Linked DNA regions of Homo sapiens. The protein of the gene in region 1 interacts with the protein of each later gene in a biochemical or structural test. Each region holds a gene or a part of one and is shown on either strand. Other genes may lie near its edges. The genes, in order: MTMR1, PDZRN4, RADIL, RAPGEF6, HTRA3, PARD3B and SHANK1.

The links.
Region 2: the proteins of MTMR1 (region 1) and PDZRN4 interact in a test that uses a peptide from one of them, tested with the Homo sapiens proteins (one large-scale study listed by IntAct).
Region 3: the proteins of MTMR1 (region 1) and RADIL interact in a test that uses a peptide from one of them, tested with the Homo sapiens proteins (one large-scale study listed by IntAct).
Region 4: the proteins of MTMR1 (region 1) and RAPGEF6 interact in a test that uses a peptide from one of them, tested with the Homo sapiens proteins (one large-scale study listed by IntAct).
Region 5: the proteins of MTMR1 (region 1) and HTRA3 interact in a test that uses a peptide from one of them, tested with the Homo sapiens proteins (one large-scale study listed by IntAct).
Region 6: the proteins of MTMR1 (region 1) and PARD3B interact in a test that uses a peptide from one of them, tested with the Homo sapiens proteins (one large-scale study listed by IntAct).
Region 7: the proteins of MTMR1 (region 1) and SHANK1 interact in a test that uses a peptide from one of them, tested with the Homo sapiens proteins (one large-scale study listed by IntAct).

What each region holds. Positions count from the first base shown.
Region 1 is NC_000023.11:150,724,396-150,727,895, reverse strand, and holds part of MTMR1 (phosphatidylinositol-3-phosphate phosphatase MTMR1), read right to left. Parts: intron 682-3,500; coding exon 587-681; intron 213-586; coding exon 105-212; intron 1-104. UniProt on the Homo sapiens protein: Lipid phosphatase that specifically dephosphorylates the D-3 position of phosphatidylinositol 3-phosphate, generating phosphatidylinositol. Could also dephosphorylate phosphatidylinositol 3,5-bisphosphate to produce phosphatidylinositol 5-phosphate.
Region 2 is NC_000012.12:41,509,820-41,513,319, reverse strand, and holds part of PDZRN4 (PDZ domain-containing RING finger protein 4), read right to left. Parts: coding exon 3,407-3,500; intron 1-3,406.
Region 3 is NC_000007.14:4,835,217-4,838,716, forward strand, and holds part of RADIL (ras-associating and dilute domain-containing protein), read right to left. Parts: intron 2,235-3,500; exon of another isoform or gene 2,172-2,234; intron 1,390-2,171; coding exon 1,142-1,389; intron 24-1,141; coding exon 1-23. UniProt on the Homo sapiens protein: Downstream effector of Rap required for cell adhesion and migration of neural crest precursors during development.
Region 4 is NC_000005.10:131,429,230-131,432,729, forward strand, and holds part of RAPGEF6 (rap guanine nucleotide exchange factor 6), read right to left. Parts: intron 2,121-3,500; coding exon 1,630-2,120; intron 1-1,629. UniProt on the Homo sapiens protein: Guanine nucleotide exchange factor (GEF) for Rap1A, Rap2A and M-Ras GTPases. Does not interact with cAMP.
Region 5 is NC_000004.12:8,286,754-8,290,253, reverse strand, and holds part of HTRA3 (serine protease HTRA3 isoform 1 precursor), read right to left. Parts: coding exon 3,471-3,500; intron 1-3,470. UniProt on the Homo sapiens protein: Serine protease that cleaves beta-casein/CSN2 as well as several extracellular matrix (ECM) proteoglycans such as decorin/DCN, biglycan/BGN and fibronectin/FN1.
Region 6 is NC_000002.12:205,115,475-205,118,974, forward strand, and holds part of PARD3B (partitioning defective 3 homolog B), read left to right. Parts: intron 1-3,446; coding exon 3,447-3,500. UniProt on the Homo sapiens protein: Putative adapter protein involved in asymmetrical cell division and cell polarization processes. May play a role in the formation of epithelial tight junctions.
Region 7 is NC_000019.10:50,664,303-50,667,802, forward strand, and holds part of SHANK1 (SH3 and multiple ankyrin repeat domains protein 1), read right to left. Parts: coding exon 1,890-3,500; intron 1-1,889. UniProt on the Homo sapiens protein: Seems to be an adapter protein in the postsynaptic density (PSD) of excitatory synapses that interconnects receptors of the postsynaptic membrane including NMDA-type and metabotropic glutamate receptors via complexes with GKAP/PSD-95 and Homer, respectively, and the actin-based cytoskeleton.

The DNA.
Region 1 (3,500 bases):
CAGTACAAATTATTCTACTGTCCAAAGACCATGAAGAGACTGAGGGAGAAAAAGTTCAGAGCTGATTGCCCTCTTTTAGTTTTCACTTGGCGTTTCTATTATACCTTGCACACTATCTCTATACCACAGGAATTGTCTCCATGGCTCTGTGCTCCAATCTTCTCCACTCTGCTGATCACTCCAAGGGGAACATCAAGGATAAAATGCGGGTCCTAGGTTCAAAAATTAAGATCAATGCCTATTAGTGTCAGTCAACAGTTTTCATATTTTAAGTCTTTGCTGGGTTACAAAACATGTTTGTTTACTTCGCATTTCCTCTTTGTCCCAGCTAAATTGAAGTCTGATTGACAGCATTCCTTGTGAAATATATATTGAGACAACAATGGAATTTCCCCTCCAGGTTTAAGCGGTACTTTAACAGCCTTTGTTTTCAAGATACAAACATCTGTTTGCAAATGTGTGCATCTCAAAATCCAACCTGTGGTTATCTCAGGGTAATGGGATTTCAGGGGACTTTTTACTTTCTTCTTTTAGTGTTCTTTTAAAAGTGTTTCTTTTAAAATAAAACACACTTTAAAAAACTCACCCTCTCGACATTTTTGAAGTACAGCTTAAAGTCCGTCACTGTCAGGGTTCCACTCACTGCTCCCATAAATGGGCAGATATACATGACATCTTTCACTGAAAGAAAAAGGCCAAAGTAGCAACTACTGCCATAGACTTGTGCTTCCATAAAACTTAACACGAGTTTTCCAAATATATATTTGTGATTCCAGTTTTCCAGGAATTTTGTATTTTATAGGATTATATCAATTATGACTTTCAATATAGAGAGATGCATAGTCTTCTAATAAATTTCAATTTTTTAAAACAAAATTCTGATTTGCTACTTAATGAGGTTTTAAGTAAAGGGCCTCATAAGAAGTTATATTCTGTCATTTTTCCTAGGTAGTTAACATTTTCCCTGGGTGATAAATTAATCATATTCAAAACATTAATTAAACTCTGAAAACCCTGGGCTACTGTTTCATGAATTACTGCTACTTAAAACTAATGAAAACTAAAGATTGTCTCCTAATGCATCTCCAAAGGAAACTCTTTTTACAGAAGACAAAACCTAGAACCACATCAATGAAATGGAAAAAGACTTATTTCAAATTCCTTATCCCCTTATCAGTTTTAATTTTTTGTCAATATCTATTAAGTGCGTGACATATTTAATTCCCATTAGTGTTAAGAAGCTCACTTCTATCACAAAGATACCACATCTTCATGTTTTCCCAAAGTGCCATTCCACTGGAATGACAAGAATATACATAGCTATATATGAGTCCAAGTGAGACAACAAAAGGCATTAACGTCATTGAACCAAATTCTCAGAATACTTCCATTGAACTTTTCTATACTCCTTATGTACTGAGAGCCTTCTATTGCTGGGATTCTGGGTATAATTGGAAGAAGTTCCTGTCCATGAGCAGCCCATGACCTGTGAGAGATACCACACAGAAAAATCGCCATTATACTAGAGCAGAGGTCCCCAACCTTTTCGGCACCAGGGACTGGTTTCATGGAAGACAACTGTTCCATGGACCAGGGCAGAGGTAGGGGGATGGTTTCAGGATGAAACTGTTTCACCTCAGATTATCAGGCATTAGACCCTCATAAGGAACATACAACCTAGATTCCTCACATGCGCAATTCACAACAGGGTTCACGCTCCTGTGAGAATCTAATGCCACCGCTGATCCGACAGGAGACGGAGCTCAGGCGATAATGCTCACTAGCCCGCTGCTCACCTCCTGCTGTGCAGCCCCGTTCCTAACAGGCCATGGACCAGTGCTGATCCACGGCCCATGGGTTGGGGATCCCTGCACTAGAGGTTGACAAAAGCTAAAATAACAATGTGGACACAAAGTATTACAATGGAAGTTCAGAAAAGGATCAACTTAACTCAATAGGAAAGTGGGTAGGGGGAGTAAGAGAAGGAAGGGAGGAAGGGCACAGTGATAAGTTGTTAGAGGTTAGTATGCCTGGATCAATGGGTGCAGTGAGGACAGTCGAATATGAGGCCAGAGAAGTTGGCAGGGAGTGGATTGGCAAGTGCTTCTGTAGGAGACTAAGGCATTATTATCATTATCCTTAAAAGATAACTGTTTAAACAAAAACAAAAACAATATATTGTGGGGTTTATAACATATGTAAAAGTAAAATGGATGACAACAACAGCATAAAGGGTAGGAGGGGACAAATGGGAGTATACTACTATAAGGTTCTTATCCTGTACATGAAGCAGCATACAATCATTTGAAGGTAGACATAAAGATGTAAAATAACTAGTTACATAACAAAACAAACAATTATAGCTAATATGCAATCACAGGACATAAAATAGAATTCTAAAAAGTAAAAACCCCATAGTCTCGACCCAAAAGCTCCTTCAGCTGATAAACAACTTTGATAAAGTTTCAGGATACAAAATCAGCATACAAAAATCACTAGCATTCCTATACACTAACAACAGCCAGGCCAACAGCCAAATCAGGAATGCAATCCCATTCACAATAGCCACAAAAAGAATAAAATACCTAGGAATATGGCTACCCAGGGAGGTGAAAGATCTGTACAATGAGAATTACAAAATACTGCTCGAAGAAATTAGAGATGACATAAACAAATGGAAACACATTCCATGCTCATGGATAGGAACAATCAATATCGTGAAAATGGCCATACTGCCCAAAGCAATTTATAGATTCAATGCCATTCCTATCAAACTACCAATGACATTCCCAGAACTAGAAAAAAACTATTTAAAAATTCATATGGAACCAAAAAGAATAGCCAAGGCAATCCTAAGCAAAAAGAACAAAGCTGGAGGCATCATGTTACCAGACTTCAAACTATACTACAGGCCCACAGTAACCAAAACAGCATGGTACTGGTACAAAAACAGACACACATAGACAAGTGGAACAGAATAGAGCGCCCAGAAATAAGGGTGCACACCTACAACCCTCTGATCTTCAACAAAAGCAAGCAATAGGGAAAGAATTCCTTATTCAACAAATGGTGCTGGGATAATTAGCTAGCTATATGCAGATGACTGAAACTGGATCCCTTCCTTACACCATATACAAAAATCAATTCAAGATGGATTAGAGACCTAAATGTATAACCCAAATCTGTAAAAACCCTGGAAGACAACCTAGGCAGTACCATTCTGGACATAGGAACTGGCAAAGATTTCATGATAAAGATGCCAAAAGCAATCACAATAAAAGCAAAAGTTGACAAATGGAATCTAATGAAACTAAAGAGCTTCCGCACAGCAAAAGAAACTATCAACAAAGTAAACAGCCTACAGAATGGGAGAAAATATTTGCAAACTATGCATCTGACAAAGGTCTAATATCCAGCATCTATAAGGAATTTAACAAATTTACAAGAAAAAACACAAACAACCCCATTAAAAAGTGGGCAAAGGACAAGAATAGATACTT
Region 2 (3,500 bases), on another chromosome or scaffold:
GGTGTCATTAAATTTTCATAGAGGTTCCTAACACACCAGAGTCACCATAACATGGACACTGAGTATAATATCTCCAAAGAAGCATTTGCTTGTCTGCCGTGGCTCTGAAGGGACCTGTTACAGTCCATCAGTGAAATAATATGTGTGTTAAAAGTCCCTAAATATGTATTTACAAGATAGTCAGATCTGTTTTGGTCTATTGGGTTAATAATCCATGCACTAAGTCTGTATATAAGTACTCACGAGATACACAGATCAGCTTTGGTTCACTGAGTTAATAGTAAGTAGGTCTTTAAAAAGGCACCTAAATAGCCGCATAGTTTGTATTTTAGCAAGTTCAGAAATGCAGTCTATATACTAGAAGCTATTTCTTTTAAAGTGTGGATGCATTGCTCTTGCTCTGGTGGATGCCAAAAGGTGTGCTTCACTCTAACCTGTAATATTTTGCCATTAAAATGTCAGAAGAAAATTGCCATAGCACAAACTATATTGAAGCTCTGAGGCACAGCCCTCCAGGCTGGGGTGGATGCTGTCCTAGATTATGTCATACATACTCCACCCGCTATCACCGCCCAGGTCCAATACCCCACTCCCTCTCAGCTGACTTTGCTTCCTTCCTGTCAGTCTCAGACCAGCAGCTGGAGTAATCCTGTTATGGCTTTCCTATGTTCCAGCAACTTCCCATCTCAGAGTCAAAGCAACTTCCTATATCATGGTCAAAGCCAAAGGCTCCACAAAACACACCCTCCTTTCTCTGAATTCACCCCTTCCACTCTCTCACTGGTCTCTTTGCTACTCCTTGTACACCCCAGCATGCTTCTGCTTCAGGTCCTTTGCCCCTGCCCTTCCTTCTTTCTGAAAATCTCCTTTCACATGGCTAGATCTCTTATATTCTTTAGTTCTCTTATGAGAGAAGTCTTGCATTACCACTCTGTATAAGACAGCAACATCCTGTCCAACACCACTCTTATTATTTTCCATTAGTACTTCTCACCATTGAAAAGAATATGTCTTTACTTTTATGTTTATTGTTGACCTCCCTCTCCTAGAAGCTCCTTCCACTGGGGCAGGAGCTTCCTAATCCCATGCATAGATAACTGCCTGGTACATTTTAAGTCCTCATTAAATATTTATGGTACAAATGAATGAAAGCAGATGAAAAAGGAGTCTTCTTTCTACTTCCTTGATTGCCTGGTTGTGCTCATGTTTAGGTTGAAGAGGAATGCATATCTCTTTCTGAGCTGAAGTCTTCTTGGCCATTAAACCTCACTTTCCTGTGATATTCTCTCAGTGGCACAAAACTGGTACTTCCTTAAGGTGCTCATCCATCCCGCTCCTAGAGCTATAGGGTTATAAGGAAGCTCCTAGAGGAGCTAGGGTCATCTCAGCTGGTCACAGAAACACCAGATCAGTCTGCTTCTAGGTGTAACAGTAAAAGTGCAACACATAGACAGAATTAGCATTTCTAAATCTCTTCACTGAATGAGCCTAATGGTGTCCACCACAGGCTCCAATGATGGCAGTGGACTGACTAGATTTTGCAGTTTGATGCAGCCACAAGGGATGGCATGTGCCACTCTATGTGTGTGTCACATAATGATAACAGACTGAGGAGTACTGGGCAGAACCATTATTCTCTCTTGAATCTGGTAAATTTCTCTGGAGGTATTCTCCCATGCCTCCACTCCCACCTTTAACCATGCATGTTGTTCTCAAATGCATCCTTTCTAATGATTGAAAACTGTCATAGCAACTCCTTCCTTATTTGAATTTCACAGGAACATTCTTTATTTCAATCACTCAGAAAGGAGCCTTTGGCAACGGAATCACAGCTGACAGCAAATTAATGACTATGATGCTGTGATTAGTTGAGATTACAGGCTACAGAGAGCTTGTCTGAGAATTCACCACTGACATCATCCTGATGCTGGCTTCTGCTGGGGATTAATATTGGTCAAAAAAGAGGTTGTGGTTCAGTTACAGTAAGCTCCATAGAAATGTAAGGAAATCTGTCTGTATTGTAATATTTCAATGACATGCTGATTCATTTAAAGGGCTTTTACTGTTAACTTGCTTAGCCTAAACAATCTTCCCCTATGCCCTCCCCGAGCACACTGACTTATTTTAATAAAGCTTTAAGGCATCCAAATAAAAAGTTGAAGTGATCTACATAATTCCAGTCCCCAAACTGAAAGTATTCATTAACCAAAAGGAAAACATAAGAATCTTGAATTATTTGGATAAGTCATTCAATTTTATAATTTATTTTACATGAATAGACAAAGCAATGGATATTGTAATGCATGTCAGTGCTTGAGTAGATTTAGAAAATAAAACTTTTCAATCAACTTAATAAAGAGGAGGTAAAAATTTAACATGAACAACACAAGAATGACAAAAACCATCTACTCAGTTACCAGTTGTCATTTCACATCCTTCTAAATTTTGGCTGCAAAGAAATAATGATTTCTGTAATCCCCAGGAATGACTTTTGTGGGGAGAAGATTTCAAACAAACGTCCATTTGCTTTAGATGAGCTTCCTTATTTGATTTCAGATCCTCCTAAGGGAAGAGATTTCAGGATTTCCTGGTTGTAAAGTGGAAGAGAACACTTTGCTGAACTTGTATGACATCACCTGAAGCATTAAAAGGGCAGGTGACCATGGGTTCTCTGCCTGTTTACCAAAGCTTCTTTACTTCCTCAATCTATTTTATTTTTAAATGTCAGAGTAGTCTGAAACCTTTCAAAGATATTCAGGCTGCAGAAGCAGAGGAAATATTAGGATACATTCTTTAACTTTTGTGAGAGCTTTTAAATAATCAATGGATGGACTTTTCGAATTGTTATATATCACAGTACAGATATTCTGACATTAAACCATGTGAAGAATAAATATAGTTTAACAACAAAGGGCATGAGGCCATCTCTATTTCTAGGAAGTCTGTGAAATGGCTCTTTAGAGTACAGACCAGAGGCACAAAGAGAGTATTGCATTTCCAAAGAATACAATATAATAAAATTTAGTTTATCAATGAAAATTAGAATATTATACAACAAATGAAAATAGTAAACACAATCTTTGTTTTAAATATATTTTTCAAACTCCACTTGGAAATCCACATATATTATAGAACAGATTTTAAAAATGTAGCTGTTGCAATATTATTTATTAAAAAGCAACAAAATGAGAGCAAATTATATTTAAGCTTATACTATAAAAATATTTTCCAATATACTTAAAACACGAGAGCCACATAGCTAAAGCAAATAGTATTTGAAAGATCTTACACTGGATATGTAATAGACAAGACATTTCTCACTGTAATAAATTAATTTCTTTGTTATACAAAACCCCTCAACCGTAACTTCATGAAGAAATGTGAAGTGGTATGAAAATGACCTTACCTCATATTCAAAGTCTTCTGTTCTGTCTGCATCAGCAGGCAAGCTGGAAATATACTCATTGTCCTCATAAAATTCATGCTCCATTGGATGTAGA
Region 3 (3,500 bases), on another chromosome or scaffold:
TTGAGCACATACACCAGGCTGTCCTGAAACAGAGACTCCGCTCAGGGCAGGCGTAACGCGAGCAGCACACGGGAAAAGCGTCCCGTGTCTAGTCACTGGTTGCTGAAGCAGCGTGGCTGGGATGCTGTCGCCACGGGCTCTCCATGTCCCTGGCCACCCCCACACCAGAACCCCGACGGCTCTCAGGAACCCGCCCCTCGATGTCCGGGCCCATCCCAGAGGAGGTCGGTTTCCCGGAGGAGCACACGAGAGACCCAGGAGACACCCAGCTTTGAGACAGCGACAGGCCAGGTCAGGGCTGGCCGGGAAACAGGCACTGGTTCTACAGACCGGGCCAAGGACTACATAACTTCCCCCAAGTCATCCCCAAAACTGTGTGGGAGCACTGCCGCCTGTGTGGGAGCACCACCCCCAGTGTGGGAGCACTGCCGCCTGTGTGAGAGCACTGCCCCGAGGGAAGATGCCACCTAAAACCTGGGCACAGGAGCCCTATGGCTGTAAAGTGCTCATGGAAATGAGCAGCAAAGGAGCTGGCTGCACAGGAGGGCGGGGGTAGGGTGAGCAGGGGGCGGGGAAAACAGTTGTCTGGCAGGGCAAGTGTCCGGCAAGGTGAGGCGAGGTGGCCCTGCGCCTGGCATTTGCTCGGGGCGACAGCCTGCCTGCTCTGATGGAAGTGGTGAGAAACGGCTCTGGGCAGATAGGGGTGGCATGGGCCTTTGCTCGGTGCCCCTTCAGAGAATGTGGCCACCAATTGGTGACTCAGCAGCCCCCTCGCCAGAAGCAGGAAGCAGACTGGCCCTGGCCAACTGCCCATGCCCTTCCCCAGAGCCAGGCGGGAGACCAAGGCTGGGAAGGCGTGAGGAGTTCTCCCTGAAGGCGCCTGGTGCTGAGGGCACCCACTCTGGGATTGGGGAAGTGAGGAGCCCCCACTGCCGCCCACCGTGGCCTGGACAGGGAAAATGTGGATGACTCCACATGTGCCCCCGCCATCCCACTCCACAGCCTCGGCACAGCCAGAGGGGCTGCAGCCACAGAGCTCGCGGCCGACTGGGCTAAAGGCAGGCGGAGGCCTTGACTTCTGAGTCCCGCCTGCTGTCCCTGCAGTGGCACCGGGCAGTGGGTGTCAGGAGGGGAGGCTCACGTGCTGCTGGCTGTAGCCCTGCAGAAGGAGCAGATGCGGGGACTGGTACAGCGAGTACCGCATGGCGTCGGGGCCGGGCTCCTCGGGGCCCTGGGCGGCAGCGGGCAGGGCGTTCACTGGGCTCAGGCTGGTCTCACTGACTGTGCGGCGCAACCGGGGTGGAGGAGAGCTCCGGGCATCCCCCAGGGCCGGGGTCGGGGTTCCCTTCGCGCGACTCCGCTGCAGCCTCCGGGCCTGGGCGTTTATCCCTGGAACAGAAGCAACACAAGGTGAACAGTTAGAAGTCTCATAGCACCAGGACTGGGCGCGGTGGCTCACCCCTGTAATCCCAGCACTTTGGGAGGCCGAGGTGGGGGGATCGCCTGAGGTCAGGAGCTCGAGACCAGCCTGGCCAACACAGTGAAACCCCATTTCTACTAAAAATACAAAAATGAGTTGGGCGTGGTGGTGCGCATCTGTAATCCCAGCTACTCAGGAGGCTGAGGCACGAGAATGGCTTAAACCCAGGAGGCGGAGGTGGCAGTGAGCTGAGATTGCACCACTGCACTCCAGCCTGGGTGACAAGAGCGAAACTCCATCCCCCGCCAAAAAAAACAGGTAAGTCTAATAGCGCCCATGTCCCGGGTCCTTCTGAGTTCAAATCCCACTAAGCCACGTCTCCTAATGCCGTTACTGTTCTGTCAAAACAGGTCTGGTGGAGACTCAAGGACTCTGCCCTCTAGCCACGCCCCTCGAAAAACCAGACAGTGCCTTGGCACCACCGTGGCACCCACAGAACAGTCTCAGAGCAGGCAGCCTGCCTGTCAAATCCTCAGGCTGAGGGGACCACGCCTCCCCTGCAGCAGCCCAGGGTCACACCGCGGCCTGCCCGACCAGCCAGCACCACGGCCCACAGGCCTCAAACCACAGACGTTTTCCCACGGCAGCCTGGGCCTCTGCAGGGTCACCACGCCGCCTCCAGAGCCCTGCCCCATCCATCTGTGCACCAGGCGAAACTCCCCTGGGGGTGGTGCTCTGACGAGACGAGACGGACTGGTCAGCATCCTGCCCCTACTTTACAAGGAGGAGGTGTCACTGTGCCACATCACCCCAGCCCATGGGGCTGCCGATGGCCTGCTCCTGCAACAGCATCGCTGCCTCCTTCCCAAGGCTGTCTCTGATACCCCCAAGCCAAAGCAGGCACACACACAAACACACGTGTGCATACACATGCCCACAAATACACATGCACCCACACAAAAATGCACACACACATGCACACACATGCACCCAAAAACACACATGCACACACATACACACACGCCAACACACATGCACCCACACACATTAACACATACATGCACACAAACATGCGCACAGTTCAGAGATAACACACACCCTTAGAAGACTTAATATCTCATAAATACAGACACGCTCTCTAAATGCATGCTCTGGGAAAGCCAGCCGGCTGCGATAGATGAAAACCGCTCACCAGTCCCCAGCTGACCCGGCGCTGTCTTTTCTGAGCCCTCTGCTGAGTTCCCTGTACGCAGCCTTTCAGGTTAAGATCCATCCCCATCTGTGGCGGCCTTTCCTCCAACCATTCCCAATAAAACCAAACAAAAGCCGGATGGAGGGAGGCGTCAGCTGGCTGAGGAAGACCCTTACCAGCGCCAGCAGCCCCGCCGTCCTTCCCAAGGCAGCCGGCAGCCTGTGCATCTGCAGCCCGCAGGGGGCCAGGGCGTGAGGGAGGCCGCCCAGCCGCAGTGCGAGGCTGCTGGGCTGGGCTGCTCACCACCCGTGCTCCTGCCGCCTGCAGAACCCGGCCCAGCCTGGCAGGCGGCAGGTGCCCAGCAGGTGGGGCCCAGTTCCCCTACCTCATCCCACCCGCCACTCCCACAAGCGTTACCAGCCCCACAGCTCAGCCTCATTGCACAACTATGGGGCCAGATCCGAAAGAAGAACAAAAACAGCTCCAAATGATGCTCCGGCCCTCAACTTTCTCCCAAATCCAGGGCCAGGTTGTAGGAGGTGACCTCAGAGTGACCTGCTGGAAGTCCCAGGGCCATGGGGCAGGAAGGGTTGCTTCTCCTCCTAGAGTCCCAGGGGCTCCCAGAGGACCTGGCCACAAATGCGGCACGGGATGTCCCAGGCCTGTGTCCCCTGGGGCTGCAGCCCCAGGCAAGTGGCTCGCAGCTGAGTGTACCCTGCTCCTCCAGGCAAGGCTCCACAGCCTCCTGAGGCCCAGGGCTGGGCTCTCTGCAGGTCGGAACCAATGCTGACACGCAGGGGCCACTCCCAGGGTCTCCTTCCTGGTGCTGGGTAGGCCTGCATGTGTGCAGAAGGGCCAGGCTGCCAGCCTCCAACGAGGGGCCGGAGG
Region 4 (3,500 bases), on another chromosome or scaffold:
TAAGCAATGAAAATGTTAATGAAAAAGAAATGGAAAAAAAAAGAAACCACCCCACAAACTTATTACAATGACAAAATACAACTTAAAAATAGACAAAATGAATAAACTTGAATGATGGCAGATCAAAAACATTTTTTAAAAGTTTAATAAACAAACCTCTTTTTAAAATACATAAACAACTATATTAAGTCCTGTAAACATTAAATAGAACGAGAGAGTTGAAGGAGATGACACTGATGACAAGCTTCCTTCTGCAATTCAGCCCCCATATCACAGAAGTACATGACAACTCCTGAAGTCACACCAGCCCTAAAGATATCAGAAACATTTAAAAGTTCACCCTACACACCGATTCTCTGTAAACTGGGAGACTTTACATAGAAATGACATTTGGGCCATCTGTTTAAGGGCTGTTTCACCTTCTCTCTGAGACATGAACCAATGTTTTCTGGCACTCCTGGGCAGATTAGTTCTCAGTCCTAGCATATAAACTTTAACTTTGCTGGTACGGAGGAACTAATTCCTTCAAGAACTTTACTTCTGGCCAGGTGCGGTGGTTCACGCCTGTAATCCCAGCACTTTGGAGGCCGAAGTGGGTGGATCACCTGAGGTGAGAAGTTTGAGACCAGCCTGGCCAACATGAAGCCCCATCTCTACTAAAAATAAAAAAATTAGCTGGGCATGGTGGCAGGCACCTGTAATCCCAGCTACTTGGGAGGCTGAGAGAGGAGAATTGCTTGAACCTGGCAGGCGAAGGTTGCAGTGAGCCGAGGTCATGCCACTGCACTCCAGCCTGGGCAATACAGCAAGAGTCCATCTCAAAAAAAAAAAAAAAAGTTGGAAAAAAATGAATGAGCTAAAAACCCAACCTATAATGCAATTTGACAAGTAACTATAAAATCAGCACATTTCACCTTCACATTTTTAGTAGTTAAATGCGACACCATGACTGTTGCATAAATTTAACAGTTGATTATGATATTAATTCAAAGTAGAGTCATTCCATATAAGTAGAAAAGCAGTTTTATATCCACGTATTTATATAGTTTAGGAAAGAAATTTTTAAAAAGTATTTGATGGCCAAATACTAAAAAAAAAAGTTTACTAAGAAAGCTTGGAATGGAATTCACAAACAGGAGTTGGCACACTCATGATGTACACCAAGAGAGTATACTGAAAAATGTTCTGGACTTCCTGATTGCATTTTCTCTCACTGTTACGACCTAAAATCAATAGCAGATTCAATGTTTCTACCACGTATGCATACCAATTGTGGTCCAAACAATTTATGAGGTGATAAAGAGAATAATCCCTTTACTACTATTGCACACTAATGCGATGATATTCCTCAATAAAACCAAAAAGAACTTAAAAACAAAAGACAAACAAACTTGTCCCTCTAATTAAATACCTTCACATCAGACTTTTCATTTTAATGGGGTTGAATAGCTGCTCCAAAGTCTTTGAGAAACCATGAATTTTTGGGAAATAACTTGTTTGTTTGTGAAGGAAAGAAAGGTTGTTAGAGAATGAATTTTTGCGACGATAAAATCCAGGGCCAAGATATCCCAATGCCATTTTTTGACTACTTAATCTCTAAATGCCACAGACAACAAAAACACAACTTACCAATCAAGCCCTTTTCTGTACTTGAAGTGACAGTTTTATAAACTGGGTCAGTGGCATCCTTGGGGTCCAAGCCTTCAGATGACTCAGCTGGGGTGCTCTCCAATACTCTCTGTTTAACTGTCCCATAGTTTGGTTCATACGTGTCAGACAGAGAACTGGAGGAGGTCCAACTCTTTCTCTCTAGGCTTCCTTTACACTGCCCACAAGTTCTAGAGCAGCTTTTAGAACAGGAATAGGGCTCAGAGTCAGTGGGTTCAACTTCAGCAATGGGGTCATCCAAATGGGTATGTCTGTAAGAGTTCAAAAAATCCCAGCTTTTTGGGTTTGGAAGGCTTTGGAAGTTGTCATGGGAGCTGCTTGAACACGAAGTCCAACTTCCACGACCACTGTCAGCTGCTTCTATAATGATATGCTCTTGAGAAATCTCTTCATTGCTCACAGACGATGAGACAGCTAAACACTTGATTAGAGATGGCTTCAAGAGTGTCCACCTAAAATTGGAGATAACGTACAATTAGAAGGCTTGCCAGAAAAACTATCTTCTCTCTGTTTCAAGTTATTATTGCCTGTGAGAAACTACAGAGCACGTACCACAAGTGTTCATGCCAAATAACATCGTGAGGAAAACAATATTATCATCATTCATCACTATATTCCTTGTAAGTATTTAGTTAACACTCAGAAGACACAGTAAAGAAACTCTAATGCTTAGCAAAATTTCCTTAGAATTTTTCTTTTTAAATTTTAAAATGTTAGATATTTTTTTTTTTTTCGAGACAGGGTGTCACTCTGTTGCCCAGACCAGAGTGCAGTGGTTATTTACAGGCACGATCATGATGCACTGCAGCTTTTAACTCCTGGGCTCAAGTGATCCTCCCGCCTCAGCCTCCCCAGCAGCTGGGATGGACCAGAGGTATGCCTGGCAAGTATTTTTCTTGAACTGATTTTAAATGAAAATGTAAAGATGAGAGTTGAAATGAATAAGGTTAAGTATACATATTCATTTTTGGTCATCACAATATTAGACTACTGCGTCCATGCATACAGAATTAAGAGTTCCCAACTTGAAGAATCATGTTTTATTTTTCAACGTACCTCTGAGGTTAGCCCAGTACAGTGCCAAGTAAACAGCAACTTCCCCAATTACCCATGAAATGAATAATTTATAGCAGGGGTCCCCAAACTAAAGCTCATGGGCCAAATTTAGCCAACAGCCTATTTTTGTATGGTCTGGAGCAAAGAATAGTTCTGTTTTTTAACCTTTTAAAAGGTTAAAAAAGAAAAGAAAACAAAACCAAACCAGAAGAATTTGTGACAGAGACTATATGTAGATTGCAGAGGCGAAAATATTTACTACCCAGCCCTTCACAAAAAAAAGTTTGTAAACCCCTCATTTACAGTATAGTGCAGGGGGTAGCAAACTACAGCCCAGGGCCAAATCTGGTGGTCTCTTTGCTCGTTTTTGTAAATAAAGTTTTGGCTGGGCGTGGTGGCTCACGCCTGTAATCCCAGCACTTTGGGAGGCCGAGGCGGGCGGATCACGAGGTCAGGAGATCGAGACCATCCTGGCTAACATGGTGAAACCCTGTCTCTACTAAAAATACAAAAAATTAGCCGGGCGTGGTGGTGGGCGCCTGTAGTCCCAGCTACTCGGGAGGCTGAGGCAGGAGAACAGCGTGAACCCAGGAGGCGGAGCTTGCAGTGAGCCGAGATCGCGCCAGTGCACTCCAGCCTGGGCAACAAGAGTGACACTCTGTCTCACAGAGCGAGACTCCGCCTTAAAAAAAAAAAAAAGTTTTACTGGGACACAGTCATGCCATTTGTTTATGTGTTGTCTATGGCTATTCTGGTGTAATAGCAGAGTAGTTGTG
Region 5 (3,500 bases), on another chromosome or scaffold:
CGACGTGGAGCCCCGCACAGGATTACGGGAGCCCTTGGTGGGCGGGCGCTGGTGTGGGAAAGACTCAGGCCGCTCCTCTATTCTCTGTGCTCAAGAAGCTTCAGTCAATGGCAGAGAGAATGCCAGGTGGCGGAACCAGGCCTGCACATTGGAAGGTGAGGGCCCGGAGAGATGACATTTTCCATTGCTGACCGGCCGAAGAGGCAGAAATAACGTCTGAAATCTCTGGGAGGCCGTGAACTGAGGAGGGTCAGCCCGTCCTCCCTGCACCCAAGGAGGGTGCACAGGTGAGGCCGTGAACTGGGGAGGGTCAGCCCATCCTCCCTGCACCCAAGGAGGGCGCACAGGTGAGGCCATGAGCTGGGGAGGGTCAGCCCATCCTCCCTGCACCCAAGGAGGGCGCACAGGTGAGGCCATGAGCTGGGGAGGGTCAGTCATCCTCCCTGCACCCAAGGAGGGTGCACAGGTGAGGCCGTGAGCTGGGGAGGGTCAGCCATCCTCCCTGCACCCAAGGAGGGGGCACAGGTGAGGGTCAGGAGCCTTTCCCATGGCTCGATTTAATGCCTAGGGGCTAGGAGGGCGTTTCCCACCTCAGCTCATGGCCATGGGTGCTGACCAGGGCCTGCAGGACATGAATCACACTAGCTCTGCTGGCACCCATTTGCCACAGGTGGCTGGTGGGGCGTCCTGCTCAGGCCCACCTGGATACCACCCCACCAGTCCTGCCAGCATTCTGCCACAGCCGCCGGAAGGGGAGACAGACCTGCCCCTAGTCTCGCTCTCCTCTTCCCACAGGGGTCCTCGAGCGGGGGTTGCAAACTGGCCCAAGGCCCAAACGCTGTCCATTGCCTGTTTTGTGAATCAAGCTTCACTGGAACGCAGCCACACCCACCTGTGCAGCCTAAGGCTGCATTTTTGCCACAGCAGAGATGCGTGGTTGTGACAGAGACCACAGGGCTTGCAAAGATAAAATATTTACCATTTGGCTTCATGGAAAATTTGTTGGCTGGGCACCATGGCTCACACCTGTAATCCCAACACTTTGGGAGGCCGAGGCAGGAGGATTGCTTGAGCCCACGAGTTCTAGACCAGCCTGGGCAATACAGCGAGACCCTATCTCTACCAAAAATTTAAAAATTAGCCAGGTATGGTGGTGCATGCCTGTAGTCCTAGCTATATGGAAGGCCAAGGTGGGAAGATCCCTTAAGCCCAGGAGTTTGACGCTGCAGTGAGCTGTGATTGTGCCACTGCACTCCAGCCTGGGCAACAGAGCGAGACCCTGAAAAAAAAAAAAAGAGAGAGAGAGGGGGAGGAAGGGAGGAAGGAAGGAAGGAAGGAAGGAAGGAAGGAAGGACGGACGGAAGGAAGGAAGGAAAATTTGGGGGTGGGGTGCAGTGGCTCATTCCTGTAATCCTAGCACTTTGGGAGGCCAAGGCAGGGGATCACCTGAGGTCAGGAGTTCAAGACCAGCCTGGCCAACATGGTGAAACCCATCTCTACTAAAAATACAAAAATTAGCTGAGGGTGGTGGCATGCACCTATAGTCACAGCTACTTGGGAGACTGAGACAGGGGAATTACTTGAACCTGGGAGGTGGAGGTTGCAGTGAGCCGAGATCCTGCTACTGCACTCCAGCCTGGGTGACAGAGCAAGAACCCGTCTCAAAAAAAAAAAAAAAAGGCTAGGCACGGTGGTTCACGCCTGTAATCCCGGTACTTTGGGAGGCCAAGGCAGGTGGATCACCTGTGGTTGGGAGTTCAAGACCAGCCTGACCAACATGGAGAAACCCCGTCTCTACTAAAAATACAAAAAAATTGGCCAGTGTGGTGGCACATGCCTGTGATCCTAGCTACTCGGGGGGCTGAGGCAGGAGAATTGCTTGAACCCGGGAGGCGGAGGTTGTGGTGAGCCGAGATGACGCCATTGCACTCCAGCCTGGGCAACAAGGGCAAAACCCCATTTCAAAAAAAAGAAAAGAAAATTTGCCAACTCCTGTCCGTGAGCACACCCCTCAGTGGGTTTCCTTAACTTTAAAATGGAGGTGATGCCCCCAGACTCAATCGCGACCGTGAAAAGTCTGAAAAGCAGGGAAGGGTCCCCATTAGGGGAACTCCTTGGAACCATTAAATCTCCTCTCCCTTGATGGGGCAAGAGGAAACCCCCTTGCAAAAGATTTCATCACAAATGCTGTAAACGTTCATTCAGAAAGAGAGGAAGCCAAATTCAAACCAGCCAAGGTGAACTTCCCAGTCCAAGGGAAGCTCCGGGTCCAACGCTGGTGTGAGACATGGGACTCAGTGACCTCATGGCATGGGGAGCTGCAAGTAACTCAACTGTGGTCCCCAGGGTCACATAAGCATGGCATTGGGCAAGACAAGAACAAGCTGGAGGGAGGCCGGGGTCCTAGCTGAGCGGGCCAGCCCTGCTCCAGTGCGCTGTGATCTTGGACGAGTTACCTAACTTCCAAGCCTCAGTTGCCCCGTCTGAAATCCCAAGATAATGAGGTCCCTGATATGGTTTGGCTCTGTGTCGCCACCCAAATCTCATGTCAAATTGTAATCCCCATGTGTTGGGGGACGGGCCTGGTGGGAGGTGATGGGATCATGGGGGCAGACTTCCCCCATGCTGTTCTCATGGTGGTGAGTTCTCACGAGATCTGATGGTTTTAAAATGTGTGGCATGTCCCACTTCACTCTCTCTCTCTCCGGCTCTGCCATGAGAAGATGTCCCTGCTTCCCCTTTGCCTTCCGTCATGATTGTATGTCTCCTGAGGCCTCCTGGTCATGCTTCCTGTACAGCCTACAGAACTCTGAGTCAACGAACCCTCTTTTCTTCATAAATGACCCAGTCTCAGGTAGTTCTTTATAGCAGTGTGAAAACAGACTCATACAGGCCCTTTCCTCCCAGGCCTGTGGTGAGAATTAGAGGAGTGCAGTCAGCGCCTGGCTGAGAGCAGGCCTTCCAGAAACAGCCGGTGGAGGAAGAAGAGGATTCTGGGGGCCTCAGTGCAGGCCTCTTCTGGGTCAGCTGGTGGGAGGTACAGACGTGAAGGTGGAGGGATGGGGTCCCTGTCCCAAGTGTTCCCCACGGCAGCCCCCTGGCCTCCACGCCCAAACCCAGATGCCATCCCATGGGGCAGGTGCATCCCCAGTAGTGGGCCCAGGTAAGACAGTGAAGAGCCTCCGTGGGGTGTGATATGGGACCACAGCCCACCCACTGTGGGCCACATGCTTCCTGGCTCTGCCCTGCACCTAGCGGCTCAGGGAGCGCAGGACAAGGAGTCCAAAGACCTGGGTTCTAGGTCTTTTCCAAGCCGTGACCCTGGGCCAGCTGCCAGTCCTCCCTGGGCCCAGTTTCCTCCCCCTGGCTGATGGAAGGTGGGGCTAGCTTGCCTCTGGGTTCCGGCGTCTGGGAAGAGGCCACCATGCCCAGCCCCAGGTGCTTCCGCCCCTCCACCCACGCCCACCCACCTTGGGATGGATCTTGATGGTGGCAATGTC
Region 6 (3,500 bases), on another chromosome or scaffold:
ATTTTGGCTAAAACCAAAAAGCCTGATTCAGAAATGTAGTTTTATTATAAGTTCATGGTTAACTGTTCAGTAACTTGGTGAAATAGTTCTATTATTTATTTTTTGCTATCCACCAGTATTATAGGAAGGAAATTTAATTAAAAAACATTAAAAATGCTATGGAAGTGGAGACATGAGCCAATAAAAGTTAAGGAGTAATGAGTACAGGCTGAAACAGCACGCTTAACTCAACCCATGTGTCTAGATGCAACTGTGTATAGAGCATGTCAGACAAGTGTCTGACTTCATAATGCCATATGGTTTCACTGTGTGAGCACAGGGGCTTCGTTAAGGTCATAGTGGTATACTTTGCTCTTAATTTCCTTCCATTTATTGGTTTGTGCCATTATTTTAAATTAGAATTTACATTTAATTTTTTTACTAAGATTACTGTAATTGGCTTTGCCTCCAATGTATTTTTTTATTTTTTTTTCTTTTAGAAAAATGTTGCCACACCTGTTGTTGAATAAGAAACCTAATCTAAGTTAGATCATCCTAATAAGTAAATTATAGTGGCTGCTCTGCTAGATAAAGCCTCAATGAATTCATTAGATACCATCGCAGAGGGGTGCTGAATGCTGCTTGTATTGAGGGCCATTGGCTTTCCCAGTAAAAACAAAGCAAACATAAAAAAAACACCAAAGTTCTTGCAACTAAAATGCAACTTAATTTTATTCAGATTTTTAAAATCAATGTGGTTTTTGTGAATTAAAAACATGAAATCTAATTCGTTTCAGTACAGATGCATAATATGCCTCAGTTTCATAGGGAAGACAGCTAAACAGGAGAGAGAAGGAGAAGGACTGGATGAAGGCTGATAAAGACTGTGAGAAGAGATGTTCAAACCAAAATTCTAAGCTGGTAGAGTCACTGAGGCTGTGTGACATTGGGAAAAGAACAGGAAGGGGGCAAGGAGAAGATGTTGGTGCCTAAATGATAATTAGAAGAGCAAGAAGAATTGTTACCCCTCTAATTCTGTGAGGCTGTGGATTTCAGCATCCTTTATCACTGTTCATTAATGCAAATTAACTGGTTAGTCTCGGCCTATAACTCCTCGACAGCATTAATCTTTAAATTCTGCGAGTCTTGGTCCCAAATGAGACAGCTACCACAGCCCACCAGTTCAGGGCAAAGAGGATAATGAGGTATTGTTTTCTGAGCCTTCTTGTATTGGTCTGGATGAAATCAAACTGGAGGGAATCTATCCCTTCCACGGAGCAGAGAGGGCAGAAGTGGTTTGTTGCCAGGGACCAAACTAATAAAATCAGTCAGTTTTACATTTTACCAAAATTACCTCTGACACATGGGTTTTACAGTTGGGCTTATTCTGTCAATAAATTTTTCATGGAAAGTTAGATTATTTAGATCAGTGAGGTTCACATAGCATACTCCAGCTGTAATATGCCAGCTAAATTGCAACCCAGTGGCCCGAAAGAATTAATTCATCTCCCAAAATGTGAAATTAAATCCTAGGGAGTAACATTACATGACTGATGATGTACTGAATTAAATTAAAGGAAGACTTGAATGCTTGTTAAAAAAATATCACTTACATAAACACGTTTATAACCACATGTGAGCCTCCTAATGAATCAAGTTATTGTGAATCCACCCTAACAAAAATCCAAAATGTGAACTCTTAGGATGCTGTTTAATTTAGGGAAAAAACCCATAAGTTTTATCTATTATTTTAATGTGTCAAATAGTTTCATTTTTAATACTGTGTTTCAAGATTAAAGTAACACAGAATATGACTAATTTGCTAACCTACTGGAACTAGGAAATGAACCACAAGACCCCACTGCACACTTGTGCCTATGACCCTGAGCCTTCCCTGCAGTAGATGGCATGGCTGTTTGCTGTTCTTTCTCCTGCAGCAGCGTGCTGTATTCATTTAACATTTTGAAGTGAGACCCAAATATCACTGCCATGCCTGTTGAGGTCTTGAGATGATGGGAGCTCATTAAGGGGACAGAGGTTCAACTCCGTGGCCACTCCAAACAGGAGGACTACTTTCTCTAATACTTGCATTGTAGATTCCCCTTTTCTATGGCTGACCCTGTTATTTACACATAAAATGTACTCATGTTTTATTTAGGTTTGAAATTTAATGTGAAGGTATTTTGTAATAGCACACATGGATTTTATACAAAAGAGAGTGACAAAGTCGAAAAGCAAGAGTATTGATAAAGTGCAGATCACAGTTTCTCCAAATGTAGCAGACTCCTCTTGCAGGACATATCTATCTTTCTTACTCTGGACACAGCTAAGCCTTGTCACATCACGAGGAGAAGGGAAATCCCACAAATAAGAAATAATGAAAATATGTATAAGTTCCATTTCTTACGGTTTTTGGTTTAGTTTTGGTTTATATATGTAACAGAATTGTGTATGTATGTGTGTACACACACACACACACACACATACACACACACATATTTTAATTCTAGTGGCTATAGTTTTCTTTCTTCTTTCCTTCTCTTCCAACCCTCCTGATTCTAAGCTACAGCCACAAAAATCCAGAGGCCTCTTTGTATCCTCTCTAATTTAGCCTCTTCTTGGTTGAAATTTTGGACAACTCTTCCCAAAGCCTGCCTTCATCATGTCGCTGCCCTACTCGGAAGCGGGGTCTGCTAGATGCCCCCCTCCAGGTCCATCAGATTAAGTTCATTGGCTGTTTGTTCAAAGCCTTTGTGTGTGGCACTGGTCTCCCATCTAGTTAGCTCTCAAATCTTTGAAGGCTCTAGGCTTGTTAATGTCTTTAGTTTTTGGACTTCAGCTGTCCCCCAAATGTATAGTGAAATTACCTGGTCCTGGTCCTATGACTTTGTCTCATACTCCTCCATCCTGATCACACAGGAAACACCCAACACATACTTGATTTGGTAGCACCAACAAATGGGATCCAGCTTCCTTCTAAACTGAGTAATATGATCTGAGCTTAAATGTTTCTTTACTTCTTAAAATGCAAATTTTTAGAATAGGTAGTAAGACTGCAAAAATGTTACTGTGAATATCCTAATGCTCTCCCACTGCTAAACATCACGTTGCCACGTTGGCACTAACTCAGACTTACTATAGTCAGGTGTGATGCCCTTCTCCAAACCACAAGTCTTTGGTGTCAACTCCAGTAAACTAGCCTTTCAATAAGTTTACTGCAAGCATGAGAAATGAAGTCGCAGATTGATGTTGGTACTTATGCATATTTATCTAGAAGGGCTTTTTCTCTTGTAGTCAGTTTTGGCTTTTTTTGGATTAGGGATTAAAATAACAAACAGTTGCCTGAATATAAAGTAAAATTTCTTTTGTAAATAGAAATCAATATGTATTTCTGAATAGTTGCAAGTGGAGAAATAATTAGCATTTATTATTCAGTAATTATATTTCAATCTAAATTTTGCATTTAGGATTCTAGGACTCTTCATCCGAGGCATTGAAGACAACAGCAGGTCCAAGCGGGA
Region 7 (3,500 bases), on another chromosome or scaffold:
AGAAATGTAACTCTACTTTCTCTAGGACTAGAAGGTCTTGAATGGGCTCGAATTCTGCGACGATGCAGCTGACTGGCTGCTCTGGGAAGCATCTGCATCATCCCGTATTTCCCCACGTAGAAGTTGCTGGGCTCTTGTTCGAGGCCCCCTCTTCCCCCATCCCATGTTACAACAATGGCACACACTAAATCCTCTCAAAAACTCTTTGGGCTGGCACTAGGCCATTCCACTTCTACAGAGAGGTGGATTCATTTGCCTAAGATCACCCAGGTAGAAAGTGCAGGGTTGGGACTGGAAGCTGAGAAGGTGGGCTCTAGAACCACACCTATAACTGCATCCTGTCTTGAACCACACTGGCTTCAAGGGACTCACAGATTTCAGGGACTGTCAGAAAGAAGTGGCAGCTCACCAAGGAAACAAACATAAGCAGGTCTCACTCCAGTCTCCTTTGTTAATAACTTTTTTTTTTTGAGACGGAGTCTCACTCTGTCACCCAGGCTGGAGCACAGTGGTGCAATCTTGGCTCACTGCAACCTCGGCCTCCCGGGTTCAAGTTATTCTCCTGCCTCAGCCTACTGAGGAGCTAGGACTACAGGTGCCCACCACCATGACCGGCTAATTTTTTGTATTTTTTTTAGTAGAGATGGGGTTTCACCGTGTTAGCCAGGATGGTCTCGATCTTCTGACCTCATGATCCACCCGCCTCAGCCTCCCAAAGTGCTGGGATTACAGGCGTGAACCACCACGCCCAGCCTGTTAATAACTTTTTGTTCATCATGGGATGTAGGTTGTGATGGTGATGGGCAGAGACAACAGAAGCTACTGAAATAAATGGAAATTTAAAGGCTGGACCCAGTGGCTTACACCTGTAATCACACTTTGGGAGGTCAAGGCAGGAGGATCACTTAAGCCCAGGAGTTTGAAACTAGCCTGGTCAACGTAGCTTGTCTCTACAAAAAGTTAAAGAAAAAATGGCCAGGGCCAGGCATGCTGGCTCATGTGTGGAATCTCAGCACTTTGGGAGACCGAGGTGGGATGAATCACCTTAGGTCAGGAGTTCAAGACCAGCCTGGCCCACGTGGCAAAACCCCTCATCTCTACTAAAAATACAAAAATTTGCCGGGCATGGTGGCGGGCACCTGTAATCGCAGCTACTCAGGAGGCTGAGGCTGGAGAATCGTTTGAACCTGGGAGGCAGAAGTTGCAGTGAGCTGAGATTGTACCACTGCACTCCAGCCTGGGCAATAGAGTGAGACTCTGTCTCAAAAAAAAAAAAAAAAAAAAAAAAAAGAAGAAGAAAAGAAAAATTGGCCAGGCATAGTGGCGTGCACCTATAGTCCCAGAGGATTGCTTGAGCCCAGGAGTTTGAGGCTGCAAGTGAGCTATGATTACACCACTGCACTCCAGCCGGGTGACAGAGTGAGACCCTGTTTCTAAAAAAAAAAAAAAAGCCAGGCATGTTGGCTCATGCCTGTAATCCCAGCACTTTGGGAGGCCAAGGCGGATGGATCACCTGAGGTTGGGAGTTCGAGACCAGCCTGACCAACATGGAGAAACCCCATCTCTACTAAAAATACAAAATTAGCTGGGTGTGGTGGCATGGGAGGCTGAGGCAGGAGAATCGCTTGAACCCGGGAGGCAGAGGTTGTGGTGAGCCGAGATCACGCCATTGCACTCCAGCCTGGGCAACAAGAGTGAAACTCCCTCTCAAGAAAAGAAAAGAAAAAAAAAAAAAGAAAAAGAAAATATTTGTGAAAGCATGCTTCTGTGACAGCAAACTCCTGCCAACCTGGTTTCTGTTTCCTTTCTGCCACCCTGAGACCCTAAAGGGACACAGCCATGCCATCAACACCTCTGGCCTCCCTTGTTGGCCACCAGCCCCCGCTTACCTCTGCCGCTGCAGGGAGGAGGTCCTCTCGGGGACATAGCTGGCTCCCCCGTGGTGGCTGTCTCCGCCTCCCCCACTGCCTCCTCGGGCCCAGGGCAGAGCGCCGCCAGCTGCCGAGGAGCCCCCAAACTGCTGAAGCTTGGAGCTGAGTTCACTGATGATGCTGGCTTTTACTGTGGCCAAGGCTGAGGCCTGAGGCTGGGCCAAGGGCCCGGGCAGAGGTGGTGGCGGTGGGCCCGGGCCCTCCTCCCAGGGCAGCAGCTTCCGGGGCAGAGAGGAGGCCGTCGGCAAGGGCACCGGTGGGACTTCTGGCTCTACAGCCACCGGACCCCCCGCCACGCCTGCCGTGGGGGGTCCTGAACAAGCACGCAGGGCCAGCAGCCCATCGGTTCCAGCCCCTGTCACCGAGACGGTGGGGCTGGTGGGGGTAACAGGGTCTCGGAGTCCCCCGCTGGGGCCAGGCCGCAGGCCTCCGCTGGCTCCTAGCGCCCGGCCCCGGAGCTTAGAGGGAGTCATGAGCTGAGGAGGGTATGGCGGGCCGGGAGTACTGCTGCCCCCAAAGGCCTGGCCGTCCAGGTAGGCCACATAGGTGTCCAGAAGCTCCGGCCCACTGGCCACACCGGCCCCAGCCCCGCCCCCACCCCCTGCGCTGCCACCACCTTCGGCAGATAGGCTGCTCAGCGTGGAGGCGCTGCTGATGGTCTCCAGTGGGTGGTCACTGCTGCTCCGACTGTCCACCTCCTCGATGCCAGAATCCGTGCCAGGCGGAGGGTCCGGGCCAGGCTGTGGGGCAGCGGGAGCCGGTGCTGCTGGGGCAGGCGGGCCTGGTGGATGGGGGTCCCCAGGAGCGGCGGAGGCCCCCTGGGTCAGGGTGGCCACCTCGCTGTCATAGGATGTCAGGCTGGATGCGGTGGAGTCCAGGGTGGGAGGGGCTGCGGCCACAGCCGGGGGTGGCACAGGGGGTAACGGGGTGGCAGGGGCAGGTGTGTCGGGCAGCGGGTGGGGAGGCCCAGGCGTGAGGGGCGACTCTGGCTTTTCGAAGCTGTTGGAGAATTCCAGAGGCGGAGGCAGCGGTTCCACGAAAAGGAATTCGCCATCTTCCACATCCACCGAGGGGGCGGGAGGCGGCAGGACCAGCAGGGGCAGCCCGTTCTCTTCGCTGGCCCTCGGGGAGGTCGGGGAGGGGGGCACGGACCGGCGTGGGCTGGGCGGCGGGACCCCCGGCCCGTCCTCCGAGGGGGGACCCCTTCCGCTCGTCACAGGGGCCCGGGGCTGGCAGTTTTCAAGGAACCGCACGTGCAGCGGCAGCCGCTCGGGTTCTTCGGGGGCTGCGGACCTCCAGGGCTTGCTTACTCCGGGGTGCGGGGCCGGGGGCTCCGTCCCCAGCTGCAGCAGGAGGGGCCCCACCCCGGGAGCGGTGGGCGGCAGGCGGTGTAGCAGGGAACGCCGGGCGGCGGGCGGGCTGGCGGGAAGGGACTTCTCCTGGCTGCCCAGCCCGGCCCTGTACCCCAGCTCCCGGCGCGCAGGGTCCGGCGGGGAGGCCCCCCAGAGACGCAGCACTGGCTCGTGGTGGGCGTGGGGCGAGTGGTGGTGCGGGGTGGGCGGCGGGGCC